Linked DNA regions of Homo sapiens. The protein of the gene in region 4 interacts with the protein of the main gene of each other region in a pairwise test. Each region holds a gene or a part of one and is shown on either strand. Other genes may lie near its edges.

Region 1 (4,919 bases), on a different chromosome or scaffold from region 4:
CATTCTTTCATCCAAAGCTGAAAAACAATTTCAAAAAGTGTTTATGTGTGTATGGTTTTTTTTCTGTTGTTGTTGTTTTTTTTAAAACAGATAACCAAGTTTTACAGAGGGAAGGACAAGATGAGGAAAGATATTTGAATTCTCAACATTTTCCGGCTGTGTTTCAATTCTACAGGGGTCATGGCTTTGCCTAATCCATGCCTGGGATTGGCCTTAAACTCTGTGGGAGTTCCTGTAGGGAATTCCATTTCATCTCCAATACATTTAAGTCTAATTATGAAAACAGAGTTTATCCACAGGAAAAAAAATGTAAAAACACTGCAAGAGAATACATAATACATGGCAATGTGTATAATGCCCCAAGACAGGAGCCATGGACAAGCTTTGGAGGAGAGACAATAGAGAGTGCATGTGGCCCAGAACAATCAAGGAAAGTTAATGGGATAGACGGTCCTTGGGAAGGATCACGAATGATAAATGCGATCTGGACAAGTGGGAAGTAATCCAGGTGAGAAGAACCTGAGCAAATGTGTCAATCAAGGAAGAGTAGTGATCTCTTGATGTGACCCATATGACGACCTCTATGTGAGGTTTTAAAATGATTTATTTAGAAGTCATAGGATTTTGATCGGTTAAGGAACTTAGATTTTCACCAAGTAGAAAAATCCTCTTTTCAAGATCCCTACAGCACCTACCAGCTTCTATCTGAAACACTTCCACTGATGGAGAACTGGTCAGTTTTTCAAATAGCTAGTGCTTCCCACGTTACTTTGACCTTTGGCCTTGTTCTGCCTTTCAGTGTAACGTATATCACATTTGCTTACTCAAAACATGACACACACATCCCCAAATTAAAGACAGCATTGGGTGGTTCCTCCCTTGTTTTTATCTTTGTCTTTGGTTCTTCCAATTGTCTTCCTGGGTAGTCCAGATGGTGGTAAAAGATCTACCCAGGATGCCTTCTAGTTTGTTAAGGTCCCTTTGAAAACCCGTACCTGGAAGTGAAGTTATCCTGTTTTGGTTTGGAGGACTCAGGATTCAGTGGAGTGATCACTTCCTTAACCAGGATACTATGTGTTTACTAATGCAATCTATGATGGTTTTTACTGTTTTGTCTTATTAGATATCTCACACTGTTGACTGGAAGAACTCAGTAGGCCTTTAGAGTACAAAACACTTACTACTGTGGCATGAACATAGAAATAAATGAAGGTAGTGATGATGGCTGCCAATTCTGACTCTCCTTGCCTGTACTTTGCTCAGTATTTCAGCCTCCAAGTGGACAAGAAATCTCTCCATAAGTAGTTGGAAGAGCTTGTGTATATGGTTGTCAGCTGGGGATACAGTGGGTAGAATGAGGGTCCCTGCAAAAGATATATCCATGTCTTAACCCCAGAACCTGTGACTATGACCTTACAGGAAAACGATCTAAGAAGGTGTCATGAGGTTTAGGATCTTGAGATGAGATCATTCTGGATTATCTGAGTGGGTCCTAAATTCAATGACAGATGTCCTTAGACACTTATAAGACAGGAGGAGAAGACACAAACGCAGAGGAGAAGGTGATGTGAGGAGAGAGGCAGAGATTGGAATTATGCACCCACAAGCTAAGGAATGTCTAGAGCTACTAGAAACTGAAAGAGACCAGAGAAGACCCTCTCCTGGAGCCTTCAGAGGAGTGTGGCCCTGCTGTTACCTTTATTTCAAACTTCCAGCCTCCAGAACTGTGAGACAATAAATGGGAGTTGTTTTAAGCCACCAAGTTTATGGGTATTTGTTATGGCAGCCCTAGAAATACAGGGGTTACATATTTCCAGGGGTATTCCTGCAGGAATGGGGTGAATGCTCCCAACGATCCTTTCCAACACTTCTCTATAGGGCTTAGAAATAGGGAAAAATATTTGGAGACAGCAGCCACATAGATTGCTACATATTTAGCAACTCTACCCTATTAGAAAATGTATTAATTTCCCTTTAATTCATTAATAAGTTAGAATACAGATGCTTTCAGAGATGACTGTTAGACTAAATTTGCAAAGGGCCTCAAGGGAAAAAAAAAAGGCCACAGATAGAATGGCTGAGTGTGTGTATGTTGTGGAAGATGTAATATAAGTCAGACAATCATATTTAATGAGGAGTCTGAAAACACATGGTGACTCATGTATTCATGCGAGTATGCAGGAGCCTAAACATGCTGCGCTCTATTCAGAAAAGGCCACGTGACTGTCAAAAGCAGTCATAAGCAAGTTATGCAAATCATCTCAGCAGATAGCAATGACATATTTAGACCTCCCCATCATGCATGTGCTATTGTGCCAAGAAGCTATTAAAGAAAATTCTTGGAGAGTTTCGACTCTGCTGCTGGTGAAGTCTTTTGTGTGCCTGTGACAAATGCGTCAAACACAAGAAGCAAATAAGAGTCACTTGAAAAAAATCATGGAGTCTAAGTCCACATATTCTAAGTCACAAATTAGTGATGTTACCAAAAATGTCCCCGGTTAATTGGGATAGAACTTGCTCCCACTGTTAGAAGTGTACTAGTCAGCCTACCATGCCAAGGAACTTGGCTTTCTAGAGCAGAGAGAAGTTCTTTCAGATGGATAGGTGAAGAAGGGCAAAGGCAAAGAGAACAAGAGTAAACAGATGATTGTAAAAACTGCAAATCTCAAATTGGTGGATCATCTTGTCTACCTTCTACCTGAGGCAGAAATTCTTTTTAGAATATAAAATAAAAAATAATGATTATTACTATTTAATGAGCAGTTTGCAATATGCAAGATACTGTGCTGGGTATTCAACATGTTTTTTCATTTAATCTAAAATAATCCTATGAGATCATTAAGGTAATCTTCACTTTACAGATGAGTGTATGTGCAGCTGAAAAACACAAATCCTCTTTGTCATTCATTTATTAATTCATTCACTCATCCAGCAAACATACACCATGCACTAAATATGCCAAAAAAAATGATCACCTTCAGTGACAAGAAACTCAGTATCCCAAAAGGCAACCTACTACATTTTCGGACAACTCTAATTCATAGAAAGTTCTTCCTCTTACTGATCTGAAGTGTGTATCTGTGTAACTAACCAAATAGGTCACTGTGGTGTCCTCATGTCACACAGAACAAAATGGAGGAAAGGGTAAACACAGAAAGTTTACGGGAGACAACAAACGTTTTCTGTTCCTGATTTCAGCTCAGTGTAGTTTTCCACATTTTATGGTTTTTTTATGGTTTTCATGTCAACCCTATTCTTTGGGGATAGTTAATGATTAAATCATATTAACCCAGGAACAGTGACACAGTCTTCCTTCCAAACAGTTTTGAAAAGCCTTTGATACTTTGGAGGCATTGTCAGAGGACAATAAATTTGCCAACCACATAAAAGAGAGTCTATGTAATGTCAGTACATAAATATTAGGAATAGTTGTATGCTACTGGGAAGTCCATGAATACTGAGGCAATGAGGAGGACACACTTTAGAGCATCTCTTATGTGTCCTCGCCTTGCCAGCATCTTACAGACGGCATTTCGAGTAGTCAAGATCGTATCCTGGTCAAGAGAGTGAAAGGAAAAAAAAAGTAGTCAAGATCCCACCAGACCCTATTTTCTCCACTTTAAGTGAGGAATTCAAATATAGAAAGGAAGTCTTAGCCAAGGTCTTGGAGACAAGGAGACAGTGACAGGTGAAGCCAGGAAATCACCGCTCCAGGAAGACCCGCTGTTTACTCACATCACAGAAGCCCACTCCCCACAGGTTTATGAAAGACCAGGCATTTCCACTGGCAGCCACTCTACCCTGGAACTCCAAGAGAAACAACACAATCTTTGTTAACAGGTTTTCCTCCTCTGCCTTTGGGAGCCTTTTGGGAAATCTTTTTTTGCTCAGTCTTTGGCCCTCAACGTACTACCGTTTCCATCATTATTACATCCAGATAGTAGCATGACCTAAGATGTCTAACTGTAAGCAATATAAAAATGTTTAAAATAATATAACAATAGTTAACACTCACTGAACATTTAAAATATGCCAGGCACTTTCCATGTAATTATTTCAATTATTCCTCCCAACAGCTCTGAGTCTGGGAAGTATTTCATTTCCCAGCTGATGAAACCAAAGCAAAGAAATATTAAGGAACTTATTTAGGCTAGCAACTACATGGTAGAACTGGGTCTGATACACAGACCTGTCTGATACTATCAACTATGCCTTCCTTTCAATATTTACAAGTAACACTGTGGCAGGTACCATTCCAAGCACTTTACACATTTCAACCCATTTCATCTTCATGATAACCCTATTACACAGCTGATGAGAGCAGCTTAAAGAATCTGTCCCAGGTCACACAGGTAGCACATGGTAGATCTGGGTTTCAAAAACCCAGGTAGGCAGCCTGATGCCAGAGACCAGACCACTATTCTAAAGCAGTAGCATTGCCCCACCTAGAATGGAATGAATAAGATTGATATTTTCTAGTGAGGCACTACCCAGTCCCCCCAGTCAGTCTGACCTACCCACCTGGACATGCAGCCCACCTTGCTTCAGTTGTAAGGATGGAGGGGGCCTGTGAAGTACACCATTTTAGCGTCCTTTGGGGAAAAATGTAGCTAAGGAAACTGACATGCAGGGGGGTTGAGGTTCTCCCTTAGGGCTCCGTAGGCAAGCTAGTAGAACAGTAGAACCCACTGACCTCAATCCACTAATCCCTTACTCTTGAATGATGAAAATTTGTGGTATCCCTGAAGGGCGAGACCCAGAGAAGTGACCAGGGCCCTGGGCACACAACTGCTCATATGCAATGACTCAAGGTCACCCAAGGGCACAGGGTATTGCATGACAAGGCCAATCACATCCAATGGGTCATGAACCTCCTTCTATGGTACAATGAGGCTCCAAACCAGGGGCTTCCTCCTGCC
Region 2 (4,964 bases), on a different chromosome or scaffold from region 4:
ACTGAGCCAGGGATTTGGCACCAGAACTCTTGGGGTCAAGTCCTGGCCTACCTCTGACTAGTTGTTTCCACTGAGACACATTATTTCTCTCAGCTTCAGCGTCCTCCTCTGTGAAAATGTGTGTTCTACATACTGCTTGAGATGATTTCAAGGCTTAAGGGAGATAATGTTTGAGGAAATGTTTTGAAAGCTACAAGGCACAAGACAAACACCACTTAATATTACTCATCTTGTCTCTGCAGAGACATCCCTCACTGGGCCAACTTCTTCCCATCTGTGCAAAGAGTGGGGAGAGGTAGACACTGAACTGTTGTTCCTTCCAGTGCTGCCGGGTGGGATTCTAGCCATGTAACACCCTCCCTCTCTGAGTCTCTGGGCCCCCTCATCCTGAGCCTCCAAAGTCTGGAAGGTTTCATAGCTCATGTGTCCACCAGATGACAGTGGAAGGGCTCAGAAAGATGCTTCCAGAAAGTCCTTCTCCACAAACACTACACAAAGTTAAGACCCTGTTCCCACCCTTGGCTCAGACCCTAAAAGAGAGAGTCACTCTCATTTGTCTTTACCCCACTCAACCCCACCCTGGCTTTGGGATTTCTCTACATTCTGTATTTTGTCCCCAGCCTGTTAACTATAGCTTCACTGCTGAGCCATCTGTTCTAGACCACGTTGCTGCCTCTGCCCACCACACACTTCCCTGGAGCTGGACCTGATCAGCCAGAAGAAGCATCTGAAAAGGAGCATCTCAATTTCAGCACAGTCGACCTTAACAAAATAACTTCAGGAAGTGCACCAGCTTGGGAACCAGGACTTCGGGGTTCCCCTGCTTCTGTCATCAGCAGCTGCACAGGCTTATCTGAGACTTTCTCTCTCTGGGTGTGCACCTATAAAATGCCAGGATTGGATGCAGTGACTACTGCTGTGGTTCTGAGATGGGGAGCTGGGGAGCTGGGGAGCAGGGCTGGGAGGAGAATCAGTTGGGTGAACTCCTGGCTGGCTGAGCCCTGCAGAAGTGGTCCTGGGCTTCTCCTTCCTTCAAGGCTTGACCAAGTTCTCTCTGCTTATGTATCCATTCTGTCCTCTTGCTGGGACAGGTGCTTGTTGACTGCCTGTTGACAGGATCATGGGAAGCAGTTTCTCAGAGAGGAGACAAGAGGAGCGGAACCCCAAGTCCTAGTGGAAGAGCCTGCAAAGGTGCCCATATCCACTTGGCCTTGGCCTGAGGCCTCTTGCAGCCACTGAATGGGGACCTCTGACGTTCACTTCCTTGGATCTCTTGAATTCCAATCTCCCTCTTCCCATCTGTGCATTCCAGCAATGGATCTCATTGGTTCACCTGCTCCCACCATGAAGTCATCTGAGGGTTAAATTCTGTTTCAATAATATACTGGGAAGCTGACATTCACATACACACATTTTATTTTTCATAAAATAAAGGATAATGTGCCCACCCATACCCTGTAAGTTTCATAGCCTAGAAGTCAGTTTCATAGCCTAGAAGTCTTCCTAGTAGTCAGATTTTCTGTCCCCCAGAGGGAGAACTCCCGCACCCCCAGTTCCCAGGGGGCCTGGTGTTTGAGGAGCTGCATCAAGCTGCATCTTCTTACAAGCCCAGGGGAGAAAGGATGTGTTTAAGGGTAGAAGTTGTTCATTTTGTTTTCCTTTGCAAGATTTTGATAGAATCTAGTATAAAGGCTGTCTGGCTTAGCTCAGAATGCAAGAAAAGGTGTTATTCTTTCGCATTTGGGCACTTCACAGAGGGCATGGGCACTCCCCCATCTAAACAGGCTTGAAAAAGGACACAGACCCAAGAGAGGCCCTTGCGGAGGCCCAGCAAAGAGTGGTTCAGGATGCACAGACAGGCTCTCTGGGGCTGTGGGCCAGGAGTGGGAAAGCCACCTTAGTCCTGCTGGAGCAGATTTGGGAAGGGTCATGGGAACAAGTTTCTCTGCTCTGGGGTCTGGGCCACAGTCTACCATGTCCCATCTCTCTGGTTCTGCCCAGTGTTCCTTCCTTCCTGTCATCCCCAGCACCTCATCAGTGCTCCCCGCTCCTGAACACCATGGTCAATCATCCTGGGGCTTCTCACATCTGTGAAAGAACAGGTCTCTCGACCACCTAGGGGTAGACTTCCAGGATGGTGCCTGCTTAACTTTCCTACAATCCAGGGTCATCGGGGAAATGAGCCAGGTGGGGAGGGTGGAGTCTCACTTGCAGCCAGAAACCCTGGGATGTAGCCTATCTGTGACAAGGGCAGATCGGCAACCATCTGCAACCAGAAACAGGCCGGGTGTTCTATCCACTGCCCCCAGATGCTGCCTCCCAGGTTCCAAGAGCCACCTTGAGTCCCAGCTCAGCTGCCACCCAGACACCGAGCATTCGACCAGGGCAGTGCAGTACATGGCGGTGCCTTGGAATCCCTGGCATCACCCTCCCCCGACCTGCCCCTCTTCTTCATCCCCACCTGACATCTCTCCTGTCCTTCAATACCTCCTGGGGCTGTTACTCTTCCTGGAGAAGGGGCTCTCGGTCCCCTTCCAGAAGCCTCTCATCCTCCTCCTTCTCCATGCAGCCCACTGTGGCAGCCAACCCAGCACCCACGCCACCCCCAACCACAGCGGCCCCTGTGGCCCCCACGGCAGCTCCAGCAGCCACCATCCCAGCCTCTGCAGCCAGTGCAGCTGCTGCCATGCCAGCACCCACCACGCCCCCTGCCAGGCCCATGAGCCCGGCCCCCACAGCACCCCCCACAGCAGCTAGGTGGCCACAGAAGCGCATCGTGTAGGAGTCCATGAAGGCCTTGGCCGTGGCCTGCAGCTCAGCTTCCAGTGCCTCCAAGGTCTGATCTCTCCCCTTGCAGAGTAAGGCCACACCATGGCGGGCCAGAATGGCATCTTTCTGGGTGGAGAGGAGGTTCCGCATGGTGTCTGGCAGGACCCGCAGCGCAGAGAATATGCGCTTGGTGGCTACGTCCTGTGACAGGGAGGGGAAAAGAAGGTGCCCTGACCAGGAGTCCCAGGTATCCTCTCCCTGATCTGGACCCTGCCCGGCCCACACCTGCCTCCCGTGCAGCCCCGGGGCTCACCTGCTGCCTCACATACTCCTCGAACTCCCTCTTGGCAGCTTCCACCTTCCTCAGGTCGTGCAGCTGAGCAGCCATCTGTCCACGGGAAAACCCAGGCTGCCTCCTTCCTTCCTTCTCAGCCAGGGGCGCTGCTTGTTTCCTCATCTCCACTCCCAGGGCACACAGACCCCCACCCCGGAGGCCTCGGCACAGCCCCCACCTCCCTGCCTCCCCTGTCTCCCTGCCAGAATGCTGGATCCCCCAGCGCTCATACCTCATCCGGAGAGGTGAAACCGGGCCCTGTCCTCCCCATCCATCCTGAGAGGTTCTGCGGAGATACCATCGCTGGGGTCAGGGAGAGCAGGGGCCCAGCCGAGTCGCCTGGGTCTCCAGGGAGTTTTCACACCTTGATTTCCTGAGCTAGCTGCTGCCCCGTGAGTAGGCGTCTGTCCCCCCTGGCCACGGCGCGCCCCTCGTTCCAGTACCCCTGGCAGCGGCTCTTAGCGTGCTGGGGGGCCGCACTCAGCACATCTGAGACGTAGGCCCCCAGAAGGTGGCGGAAGTCATCATCTGTGTCTGAGGGAGAGATGTGCATGCTGAGAGACTGCGGGCTTTGGGAGGAGAAGGGGTGTCAGAGGCCAGGAGAGGTGGGTGCTTCAAGGGGCTCGGTTGCCGGAGGGGAGCTGGGAGCAGCGCAAGAGAGGTTCAGCTCTCAGAGACACTCACCACCAGGGCTTGCATGGCCTTGGTTCATCCGCCGCCTCCCTGGGGCAGGCAAGAGGCAGCAACGGGCTCGCTTCCCTTGCAGCAGCTCCTGCACCTTGGGGTATCTGCCAGACAATCTCTGTGAGGCAGCGAGAGGAGTGCTCTGAGCTAGGAGGTCCAGCCTCCCATGTCTTCCCCACCTCTGCCCTGTCCATGGCCCCTCCACCCCATCCCCTTGCACCACTCACCTGGAAGATGTTGCCTACATGCCCCTGCCCTGCCTTGTTGGGGTGGGATGAGTCACGAACTAAGAGGTCCAGATGCTGAAAGAGAAGGGGTCCTGACACCAGCAAATGGGGGTGGCGGGGCCTGGGGCCAATGAATCCAGAGATAGGTGTCTCACCTGGATTGGCACCATCCCATAATGCTTGCCCATCACCTCGGCCACGTGGACAAACATCTGGGGGTGGGACACAGAAAGCGTCAGGGCTGGGCCACTTTGAGGACTATGGTGCACCCCAAGCCTGTCTCCCCACCTCCCTACGCCTGCTGTAGGAGCTAGGCTCCCCCTTTTGCAGCCTGGGGTTCTCCTGCCTCTCCCCAGACCACACATCTCTTGCTTTACTCTCCACCCTCCCCCTTCAACCCTGTTCAAGTGTCATAAAACCCTAGGCCAGACCAGGAGGGCACCTAGTTCCTTTGGGTCCAGCCCTAGTGGGGAGGGTGGGGGTGGGGGATGCCCCAACATCAGAGGTCTCTTTACCTCCAGATAGTCCAGGTCTGTATCCTTCAGCTCCTGGGAGGTGCTGAGGATCTGGAATCAGAGAGAACAACATGTATGAGAGATTACAGAGGCCGGGTGACTTCACTGGGGAAGGCCCTGGTGAGTAGGGAGCTCGCAGGCAGCCTGTGGGCCTCAGAGTATGGGAGAGGCCAGTATGGGGGCCTCGAAGGCTGCAGGGCTGGGCTGGCCTCAAGGCCGGAGACAAGCCTGGAGGGTAATGTGATCCATCAGGTCTTCAGCTGCCCCTGGGACCATCAGCCCACTTTTAGGAATAACCCACGTTCCCACCTTCACCAACTAGGAGCACCTTCCCCCTTCTAAGGCAGCCCCAGAACCTATCAGGACCCCAGACACCAAAGCCTGTGAGATGCTCTGGCCTTGAGGAAGCTGAGCTGGAGAAGGGTGTGTGGGGTG
Region 3 (4,919 bases), on a different chromosome or scaffold from region 4:
ATTTCAAAACAAAGCAGAAGTAGGAAGGAAAAAGGTACAAATCAAGAATTACTAAAACTAATTTTCATGTTCCTGAAAAGGCCCGTATCTTCAGAACAGGGCATTACCCTATAACCAAAAAAGGTCTCTTTACATTTCTCTCAACTTTAAACTAGCAGATGCTAGACGAATTTCCATTACGCATTCTCCCAACAAAAGGCTAATCAACAACACTGGGAGAGGAAAAACAATATTCCCACTCATCATGCTCCCAATTTCAGTATAAATTAAATAATTTAAAATCTGGCACTTAGTCTATCTATTTTCCGAGTCGATAATCGAGATCATTCCCCAAAAAAACTTCAAAAAAAAAAAAAATCAAAGGTTGTAAACTAGTCCTCAAGATTTAAAATTAAGTAAATCTTTTTTTTTTTTTTTTTGAAACGGAGTCTCACTCTGTCGCCCGGGCTGGAGTGCAGTGGCACCATCTCAGCTCACTGCAAGCTCCACCTCCCGGGTTCATGCCATTCTCCTGCCTCAGCCTCCCGAACAGCTGGGATTACAGGCGCCTGCCGCCACACCCGGCTAATTTTTTTGTATTTTTAGTAGAGACAGGGTTTCACTGTGTTAGCCAGGATGGTCTCGATCTCCTGACCTTGTGATCCGCCTGCCTCGGCCTCCCAAAGTGCTGGGATGACAGGCGTGAGCCACTGCGCCCGGCCTCAACCTTTATTATATAATTAAATAGCACAGATTTTAGGAAAGAAGAAAATTATTTTAAAGTATATACTTAGAGCATAACTACTCAAGTAACAAGATACCAATAAAGCTGTTAAAATTACAAAGCCAGGTGCTGTGGCACTCACCTGTAGTCCCCACTACTCAGGAGGCTCAGGTGGGAGGACTGCTTGAGACCAGGAGTTTGAGACCAGCCTGAGCAACAAAGCAAGACCCCATCTCTAAAAAATTTAAACTATAAGAAATATATTGTGGGCGCAGTGGCTCACACCTGTAATCCTAGCACTTTGGGAGGCCAAGGCAAGAGGATCACTTGAGGTCAGGAGTTCAAAACCAGCCTGGAGTTCAAAACCAGCCTGGCCAACATGGTAAAACCCTGTCTCTACTAAAAATACAAAAAATTAGCAGGGCGTGATGGTGCACGCCTGTAATCCCAACTACTTGGGAGGCTGAGGGAGTAGAATCGCTTGAACCAGGGAGGTGGGAGGTTGCAGTGAGCCAAGACCGCACCACTGCAATCCAGCCTGGGCAACACAGTGAGACTGTCTCAAAACAAACAAACAAACAAACAAAAATAACACACACACACACACACACACACACACACACATATATACATACACATATACACACACACACACAAATACACATACATACACATATACATACACATATATACATATATATAGCCCGAGCAACAGAGTGAGACCCTGTTTCTAAATTAATTAATTAGGCCGAGGATAGTGGCTCATGCCTATAATCCCAGCACTTTCGGAGGCCAAGGCGGGCAGATCACTTGAGCGCAGGGGTTCGAGACCAGCCTGGCCAATATAGTGAAACCTCATCTCTACTAAAAATACAAAAAAACAAAAAACAAAAATTAGCCGAGCATGGTGGTGCATGCCTGTAGTCCAGCTACTTGTTGTGCCTGTAGTCCCAGCTACTCAGGAGGACGAGGCAGGAGAATCGCTTAAATCCAGGAGGTGGAGGTTACAGTAAACCAAGATCCCACCACTGCACTCCAGCCTGGGCAACAGAGACTCGGTCTCAAAAATAAATAATTAATTTAAAATTGTTTTAAAATTAAGGATTAAAAAAAGTAAATATGAACTAAAAACTCAGGAACTGGATGTTCAAGCTGGTCAAATAGGAAATTACACAAATTTGTGCTTAACAAGAAGTAGAAGTTCATTTTAAAAGATGCCTCCTTACAGAGAGGCCTAAAAGCAAAAACAGATTAGATTTCCATTTTTAAGAGTTCAGCAAAGAATCAAACTTGTTATATGTAATTTTTATTGCAATAGTAGCTTACTTCTGCCATGTACAAGAATTATTTCCTTGACTGTTCAAAACAAGGAAGAACAGAGGTTTCCAAGAGCCTTTGAAGATTACAGAATAAAACACCAAAAGAGATAAACACCTTACTCCTACGCCAGTCTGTACTTTCTTCTGAAGCCTTGCTTTGACTACCTGCTCAACTTTCATATTAATTTGTCTTAACATGTTTTTCAAAATATTACATCTGCCAGGTGTGGAGGCTCTTGCCTGTAATCCCAGCACTTTGGGAGGCTGAGGCAGGAGGACGGTTTGCACCCAGGAGTTAGAGACTAGGTTGGGCAACAAAGCAAGACCCATCTCTACAAAAAAATTTTTTTTAATAGCCAGGCATGGTGGTGAGTGCCTGTAGTCCCAGCTAGCTACTTGGGAGGTTGAGGTGGGAAGATTTCTTGAGCCTGGGAGGTCGAGGCTGCAGTAAGCTATGATCATGCCACTGCACTCCTCGCAACAGAGCGAGACCCTATTTCAAAAAAAACAAAAACAAAAACAAAATTACATCTGACCACTCTAAGGCCTCTGAAAATGCTGACTGCTTCCTTAACAATCATTTGCAGATGATCTGAATCCTCAGTTTCCACTCTCACTTTATTCCTGGTTTTCTTCCTATCCTTCTGTTCGTTCCTTGTCTGGCTGCAATTTTCTCCACTCGATATTTAAGTAAGTATTCTCCAACACTTGGCTCTATCTAGGTGCTCTTCAATCTTTCCATTTATATACCTCACTCGGTGACCACTTCGACACCCACAGCTTTAGCTCCATGTATTCCAGATCTACATATGGTATACACACTTAACTACTGAACCCAGTCATCAAATCTTACACTGTCCTTAAAATGTCAGGAGTCTCTCTGCTCCATTCCTACTATCATTTCCTTAGTTCAGGTTCTAATCATTTCTCTCCCTGACACATCAATGAATGACCGACCTCTTCACTAGTCTCACCACTACCAAGCTGAAAACCCTGCTATGAAGGTAAACTTTCTAAAAATGAAATGTGACCACGCTGCTCCCCTGCCAAAAATTATTTACTAGGTCTAGTATTATTCATTAGGTTATCTAATTATTTAATAGGTTTTCAGGAAAACACTCAAATTAGCTTACACAGTAAGTTCCTGCCAATAACGCTAAGCTCCATCTCCACTACGCTGTCTTTGGCTCCAGCCAAACTTCAAAGTCCAGCTCACATTCATCCTCTGTACCCTCCTTGACTCTGGCATTCCCCACAAACACTGAATACAAACGCTGACCTAAGGCATTACTTCATCTAGGAAATTATCCCTATCCTTTAGGCTAATTTAGATACCTGCTCTAGATGCTCACATAAAATCTCTTCTATATCAATCACACTCATTTATAGGTCTCTCCAGCGGACTATTAAGTCTCCAGAGAAACAGTACTTAGTAGTCCCTGCACCAGACAAAGAGCATTCAACAACTGCAGTTTCAGGGAATGAATGGGGATTAAACGGGAGTTTATATTTTAGTAATGTTATTCTAATGATAATGAACTTGCTCCTTTTACTAGGATAGTCAGTAGTCAAATCCTTTCCTGTCATTGAAATGGCAATTAAAATTTTTCATTTTCTAACTGATCCACAGTAACCCAAAGCCCTTATCACTTCAACTCTCTATTCGTGAATCAAAAATTGATTTTGCAGCCAAATATAAATTTCTTTAAAGGCATAGGTCTGTCCTTTGTGAAGAAGGTAGAGCAAATGACATAGATAACTATGTTAATTAAAAAACAGGTCAGGTGCCATGCCTCACGCCTGTCATCCCAGCACTTTTGGAGGCCAAGACAGGAGGATGACTTCAGCCCAGGAGTTCAAGATCTGACTGGGCAACGTAGTGAGGCCCTGTCTCTATAAAAAAGAAAACAAAATTAGTCAGGCATGGAGGCATGCTCCTGTAGTCCCAGCAACTTGAGAGGCTGAGGCGGGAGGGTTGCTCCAACGGGGGAGGTCAAGGCTGCAATGAAACATGATCACACCACTGCACTCCACCCTGGACAACAGAATAAGACCATGTCTCAAAAAAAAACGATAATTTTTAAAATTTCTCTCCAATTCCCCCACTAAACTCCTTCCAACTGATTAAAATCCTGTTCCTCCATTACCACCTCTTCCAAATTAAACTTTTTTTCTCCCTCTGCCTATTCTTTTAATTCATTGTTCAGGCAGAACTGTCTACGTACAATAAGTTGATTTGAGAAAGGTCCTGAATTAAAAACAATCATCTCCAACATTTTCCACAGTCTTGAGGTCAAATCAAATTATAAACCTTGATTTAAAATGTCCCACAAGGGAAGCGGACTAGAGCAATCTACACGGAATTTTGGGGAGTGCTAAAAACTACAATGAGGCCCATTAGGTCAATGACCCAAAGGATAATTAGAATGATTCTATCCAAAAAAGACCTGCTTTATATATATATATATAGTTAGCAGCTATTACAACTTCCTCTCACCTTGCTCTCCTCCCTCCCTTTTATCTACCCAATGCCAACACAGCACTTAAATTTTTTTTAAATATTGGAAAGGGACCAAGTTATGCTAGATTAAAGGTGGAAGATCTATATTGTGCCCTAGACACCTCCAAACGTTTTTTTTTTCATGTCAGATGGGTAATGTGCTGACCCTGTAACAAGGTTTGAGGATGGCATATCTCACACATGCCTGTGAACACTCAATCATCACACTATGAACCGCAAAAGGATCCCTCAAAACATTTCCCTAAGAATCTGCATTTGTTGCACAAAATAACAAGATGTCATTCATCTCCCTTAAAGAGCAAAAGCGTAACTGGCATAATTTCTATCATGAAAATCCACACACTCTTGGCTCACACAACCAGCACAAAATAGAAAT
Region 4 (4,919 bases):
GAACAAGTCTTTAAATGTGTCTGCTAATCAATTAAATTATTTTTCTCATTTCTTATGTTAAATATCACTCATTGAATACATACTCTCCCTTTAAAAGAGAGACAAATAGCAAGCTTATTTTCTAAGAAAGTGATAGTTTCAATTCCTCTGTGAAAGTGGACAGATATCCTAGGTTTTTTTTAAATTCAACTTTATATTAAAATGCTTACACATTCTAACGCAGTTGTAAGAGATAGCAGAGAAAGATGCCAGCTACCTTTTCCCCAGCTTCCGCCAGTGGTAACATCTTGCCAAGCTAGACGTTATAATTGTACTATAAGCATTGTTACAGTCAGCACAGAGGACGGCCGTCACCAAAGGGTCCCTTCTGTTACCCTTTCACAGTCGTACCCTCCTCTCACCTGCTTCCACCCCCTTCAGAACTGCTGGGAAGCATGAATCTGCCCTCCATTTCTATCATTTTGTCGTTTTGAGAATGTTATATAAATAAAATTATTCAGTGTACGATCTTTGGGGATGGGCTTTTTCCACACAGCACATTTCCCCTGAGATCCATCCAAGATATTTTGTATATCAACAGTCGGCTCCTTTTTTACTGCTGAGTAATATTCTAGGGTGTGGAGGTACCAGTTTGTTGAACCACAGATCCACTGAAAGACATCAGAGTTGTTTCCGTGTTCTGCTAATGTGAATAAAACTGCTATAAACATTCATATACAGATTTGTGTGTGTACCTACGTCTTCATTTCTCTAGGATAAATAACTAAGAGTATAACTCTGTCATCTGGTAAATACATATGTCATTTTTTATGAAACTGCTATATTCTTTTCCAGAGTGGTTCTACCATTTTATATTCCCAGTAGCAATTTGCGAGTAATCCAATTTCTCCACATCCTCACCAGCATTTGGTGTTGTCTTTATTTTGTATTTTAATTTACCTACTTTACCTATTACTCTAGATATTTCTTTATACATTCTTAACTTGTCATGCTCTACTGCAGTTGCTATTTTGTAGGTCAAGTTTAGAAATCTTACCTTTCCTTGCATCTGTGTTTATGTTTGCCTGAAATGTTTCTTCTACATGTAGAACTACATTAGACAATGCTATAACTTTTGCTGCAACCCTCTAACATAATTTAGAAAACTCAAGAGGAGAAAAACAGTGCATTGTATTTAACCATATTTTTGCTTACTATGTTTTTCCCTCCTTCCTAGTGTTCCAAAATTCCTTTTTTTGTTGTTTCATTTGTTTAGAAAATTTCTTTAGCCATTCTTTTAGGGTAGGTCTGCTGGTGACAAATTCGCTTAGTTTTTCTTTATCTAAAAAAAAAAGTATTGATTTGTTCTTTCTTCCTGAACGACATTTTCACTGGGTATAATATTACAGGTTGGCAGTTCTTTTCTTTCAGCATTTGAAAAACATTGTGCCACTTCCTTCTAGCCTTCATGGTTTCTGATGAGAAATCCACTGTAATTAGAACAATGTTAGCCCTATAGGGAAGGTGTGATATTTCTCTGGCTTCTTTCAAGATCTAAAATTTGTCTTTAGTTTTAAGAAGTTGAATTACGTTGTGTGTTGGTGTGGGTTTCTTTGGGTTTTTCCTGTTTTAGATTCACTCAGCTTTATAAATCCATCTATAACTTTATGTCTCTTGCAAACTTTGGAAGTTTCCAACACTTATTTCTTTGAGCATTTGCCCACCATTATCTTCTCCTTCCAGGAATCCCCTGACACAAACTTTAAATGCTCTGTTGGAGAACCACAGGTCTCTGAGGCTCTATTCCTTTTTTCTTTTTCCAGCCTACCTTTTCTTTGCCATTTGGACCGTGTCATTTCTATGTTCCAACTTCCAGTTCACTGACTCTTTTCTCTGTTCCTTCCATTCTTATGTCAAACCCATCAGTGAGTGTTTTATTTCAGAAATTTCAAACAAGAGGCTCTCCACTCAGCCTTTACTAGTGTTGGTGGGGACAAGGATAGGGCCGCAGTTTTTCTGTTGCATTTGGCTGGAGTAGACTGGTTATTGTCTAAATGTTTTCTATGTTGCTAGGCAGCCCCTTTCTGAGTCCTCTGGATAAAAAACAGGCCATTGTTGGGGATTTCTTCCTTCCTTCCTTTCTTCCTTTTCCCTTCCCTTCCCCCTTCCTTTACCCCTCCCTTCTCTCTCTCTCTCTCTCTCTCTCTGCCCCTCCCTTCCTCTCTGCTTCTTTTTTCTTCTCTTTTCTTTTTGTCTATATATGTTGACATTTCCTGGTTGCCAGCTTCTTCAGTTCCACATCTGAGGTAACGTAGCAAAAAGAAAACTCAAGAAATTCACCTCTGGATTCTTCCTTGGGTTCTAAAATCCCTACTCTGTCCACATTCTTCTCACTACTTTCAGAATCTTCCTAAGCTTGTACAGCGGACCCTTGAATAACATGGGTTGAAACTGCATGGGTCCATTTATATGCAGATTTTCTTCTGCCTCTGCCACCCCTGAGACAGTGAGACTAACTCCCCCTCTTCCTCTTCCTCTTTAGCCTACTCAACATGAAGACAAAGACAATGAAAATCTTGATGATCCACTTCTACTTAATGAATAGTAAGTATCCTCTCTCCTTTTTGTAATGCTGTTAATGTTTTCTCTAGTTTTTTTATTATAAGCATACAGTACATATTACATATGAAAAATATGTATTAATCAACTGTTCATGGTATCAGTAAGGCTTCCCGTCAATAGCAGACTACTGGTAAAGTGTGAGGGGAGATAAAAGTATACATGAGTTTTGTCTACATAGCGGTTGGCACCCCTAACTCCATGACTCCACGAGTCAACTGTACAATATGCAATGTCTAGGCTTTTTAGTGTAGTTGCTGGGAGGAAGAGGGAAAAGTATGCCTACTCCAGCTTCCCAGAAGCAAAATCTGTGCCAGATCATTCGTTTTCAATGTCTATATTTTTTCCATTTTCCTTTAATTTTTTAAAGTTCTTAAAGTCTTGCCAATAACAAAACTGAACAGATGAGTGTGTAATGAAAATAACTATACTCTAACAGTGCTTCTCTAAGTGGCCTGTGGATATGCTCTCCCAGAACTGAAAATTCTATGAAAATTTTTTAGATGTGACATCAATTCTATTATAATCTTACAAATACCCTTTGCCAGTTAAATAGACAAACTCGCTTTTTAAAATTATGACATTTCATAAGACTGTGGTCTCAAGCTATAGTTCCCCAAAGTACCTGAGGTGAGGCACTAAAACTAATTTCCTCCTCAAAGAAGGTGAAACTAAGTGTGAGAGATACTGCTCAGTATGTGGGGTGACCATTGCCTCAGTTTTCCTAGGACACTCCCAACATATAATTTTGTCCTGGAATAATTATTGACAGGGTCTTCTTTTATACTCACAATATCTCATTTTGCATGATAAGCTAATATATATGTTCATATCACCTATGATAAAGAATACGAAACCAGGAGGAAGACACCCAGCAAGCATAGACACCACCCCAGCCATCTCTTCTTCTCTTCAGGACACCAAGGTGTATATTTAACATTCATTAATGGAAGCATTAAGTAGCTCATATGGAAGGTCCATCTTCTTTTTCTCAGCAGCAACTTATTATTAGATATTTTGTGCTTATACTGTGAAATATAGCACCTGTAATGATAATGGGTAACTAAATGATATTGACTAAATAGTTGTAAACATATGTTCTAAGATTATACAAGAATATCTAGGATGCTAAAATTCTGCCAGTTGTACACTTAAAGAAAACATAGCCATCAATTTGCAATTACATGTGTAACTTCCTAGTCTTTACAGTGAAACTCTTCTATGAACAAAGTTTGCCAACTTCTCGGCACCTAAATCATTTAACTGTGATTTAATAGAAGTTCCATAAGTATGAACCTTTCTTTTTCAGTGTCCTCAGACACAAGTTCTCAACAGCCAGCTAGGCATCTCCAAACACACGTACTCAGCTGGCATCAACTCCCATCATGTTGGAACAATGCAGCATCCTTCCCCCAACCAAACCGGGTCTTCAGACTTCCCATTTCCTTCTATGGCATGACATTTTTCTCTAGTTCCCCACCAATGAAACTTCAATGCCAAGTTAGTCAAGGTTATGTGAAATATAGCCCATATTTTATTTTTTGTCCAATCTTCAACATCTCTCTTCAGGTTCTAGAAGAACAAGAACCCATCCTTTTTGGCAAGCATTCTCTATGCTCATTCCCCTATTCCTCCATCTACAGAATCCTACCTCAACTCAATTCATCCAAGAAGTTCTTCCTGGTGACTTCCAACCAGATGTGTTTTCTCCACCTTTAAAACTTCATAATATTTTCAGGTGCGATACGGCAGTTATGTTTCATATTCTTATATTATAGCTATTAGGTTGAACAACATGAAATTGTTGAACCTGTAAAAATGGCAATCCCATATGGTTCAATCTAATATTTCTCTCGGTTTTAGGGCTCATAAATAAAGAGCAGTCTCCATGAAAACAGGGGCTGAGTTAGGTCTCTCTTTTGGATCCCCTGAGAAGCCTAGGACATTGGAAGTGCTTAAGAAGTGTTTGTCAAAATAGACTCATAAATCAACACATGTCTTAGGCATATATGTTTGCAAAGTCAATCATCTGAAGCAATTAGTCTAACTACATATGAAATCGCTAATTGTTTTATGAATCAGCACAAATGGCAGTTTAGAACCTGAAGGTTTTGGCAATATAAAATGTTTTGATTCAAGGAGCTGTTTTAAAATTATTTATTTGTGAAGGAAACATCCTTGGATTTAGAGGTTGGCAGATACAGTGAAAATCTTTTTAGTTGACTGAAATAGAAAAAAAAAAAATCAAAACCCTTTTTAGCACATGCACTTCCCTTATAAAACCAAATTGCCTGAAAGCAGAGGCCAGCAGTTTGTGCACA

Evidence for each region. Proteins that work in one complex are often made in the same cells at the same time.
Region 1: the proteins of PRKN (region 4) and LNX1 interact in binary tests that used the Homo sapiens proteins (3 or more experiments, as listed by UniProt).
Region 2: the proteins of PRKN (region 4) and RNF112 interact in binary tests that used the Homo sapiens proteins (3 or more experiments, as listed by UniProt).
Region 3: the proteins of PRKN (region 4) and RNF138 interact in binary tests that used the Homo sapiens proteins (3 or more experiments, as listed by UniProt).

What each region holds. Positions count from the first base shown.
Region 1 is NC_000004.12:53,584,089-53,589,007, forward strand, and holds part of LNX1 (E3 ubiquitin-protein ligase LNX), read right to left. Parts: intron 1-4,919.
Region 2 is NC_000017.11:19,413,711-19,418,674, reverse strand, and holds the end of RNF112 (RING finger protein 112), read right to left. Parts: intron 4,581-4,964; coding exon 4,530-4,580; intron 4,227-4,529; coding exon 4,170-4,226; intron 4,090-4,169; coding exon 4,015-4,089; intron 3,930-4,014; coding exon of another isoform or gene 3,906-3,929; coding exon 3,788-3,905; intron 3,638-3,787; coding exon 3,468-3,637; intron 3,390-3,467; coding exon 3,336-3,389; intron 3,158-3,335; coding exon 3,083-3,157; intron 2,971-3,082; coding exon 2,500-2,970; 3' UTR 1,399-2,499; downstream 1-1,398. UniProt on the Homo sapiens protein: E3 ubiquitin-protein ligase that plays an important role in neuronal differentiation, including neurogenesis and gliogenesis, during brain development.
Region 3 is NC_000018.10:32,094,353-32,099,271, reverse strand, and holds part of RNF138 (E3 ubiquitin-protein ligase RNF138), read right to left. Parts: intron 4,769-4,919; exon of another isoform or gene 4,666-4,768; intron 1-4,665. UniProt on the Homo sapiens protein: E3 ubiquitin-protein ligase involved in DNA damage response by promoting DNA resection and homologous recombination.
Region 4 is NC_000006.12:162,437,180-162,442,098, forward strand, and holds part of PRKN (E3 ubiquitin-protein ligase parkin), read right to left. Parts: intron 1-4,919. UniProt on the Homo sapiens protein: Functions within a multiprotein E3 ubiquitin ligase complex, catalyzing the covalent attachment of ubiquitin moieties onto substrate proteins. Substrates include SYT11 and VDAC1.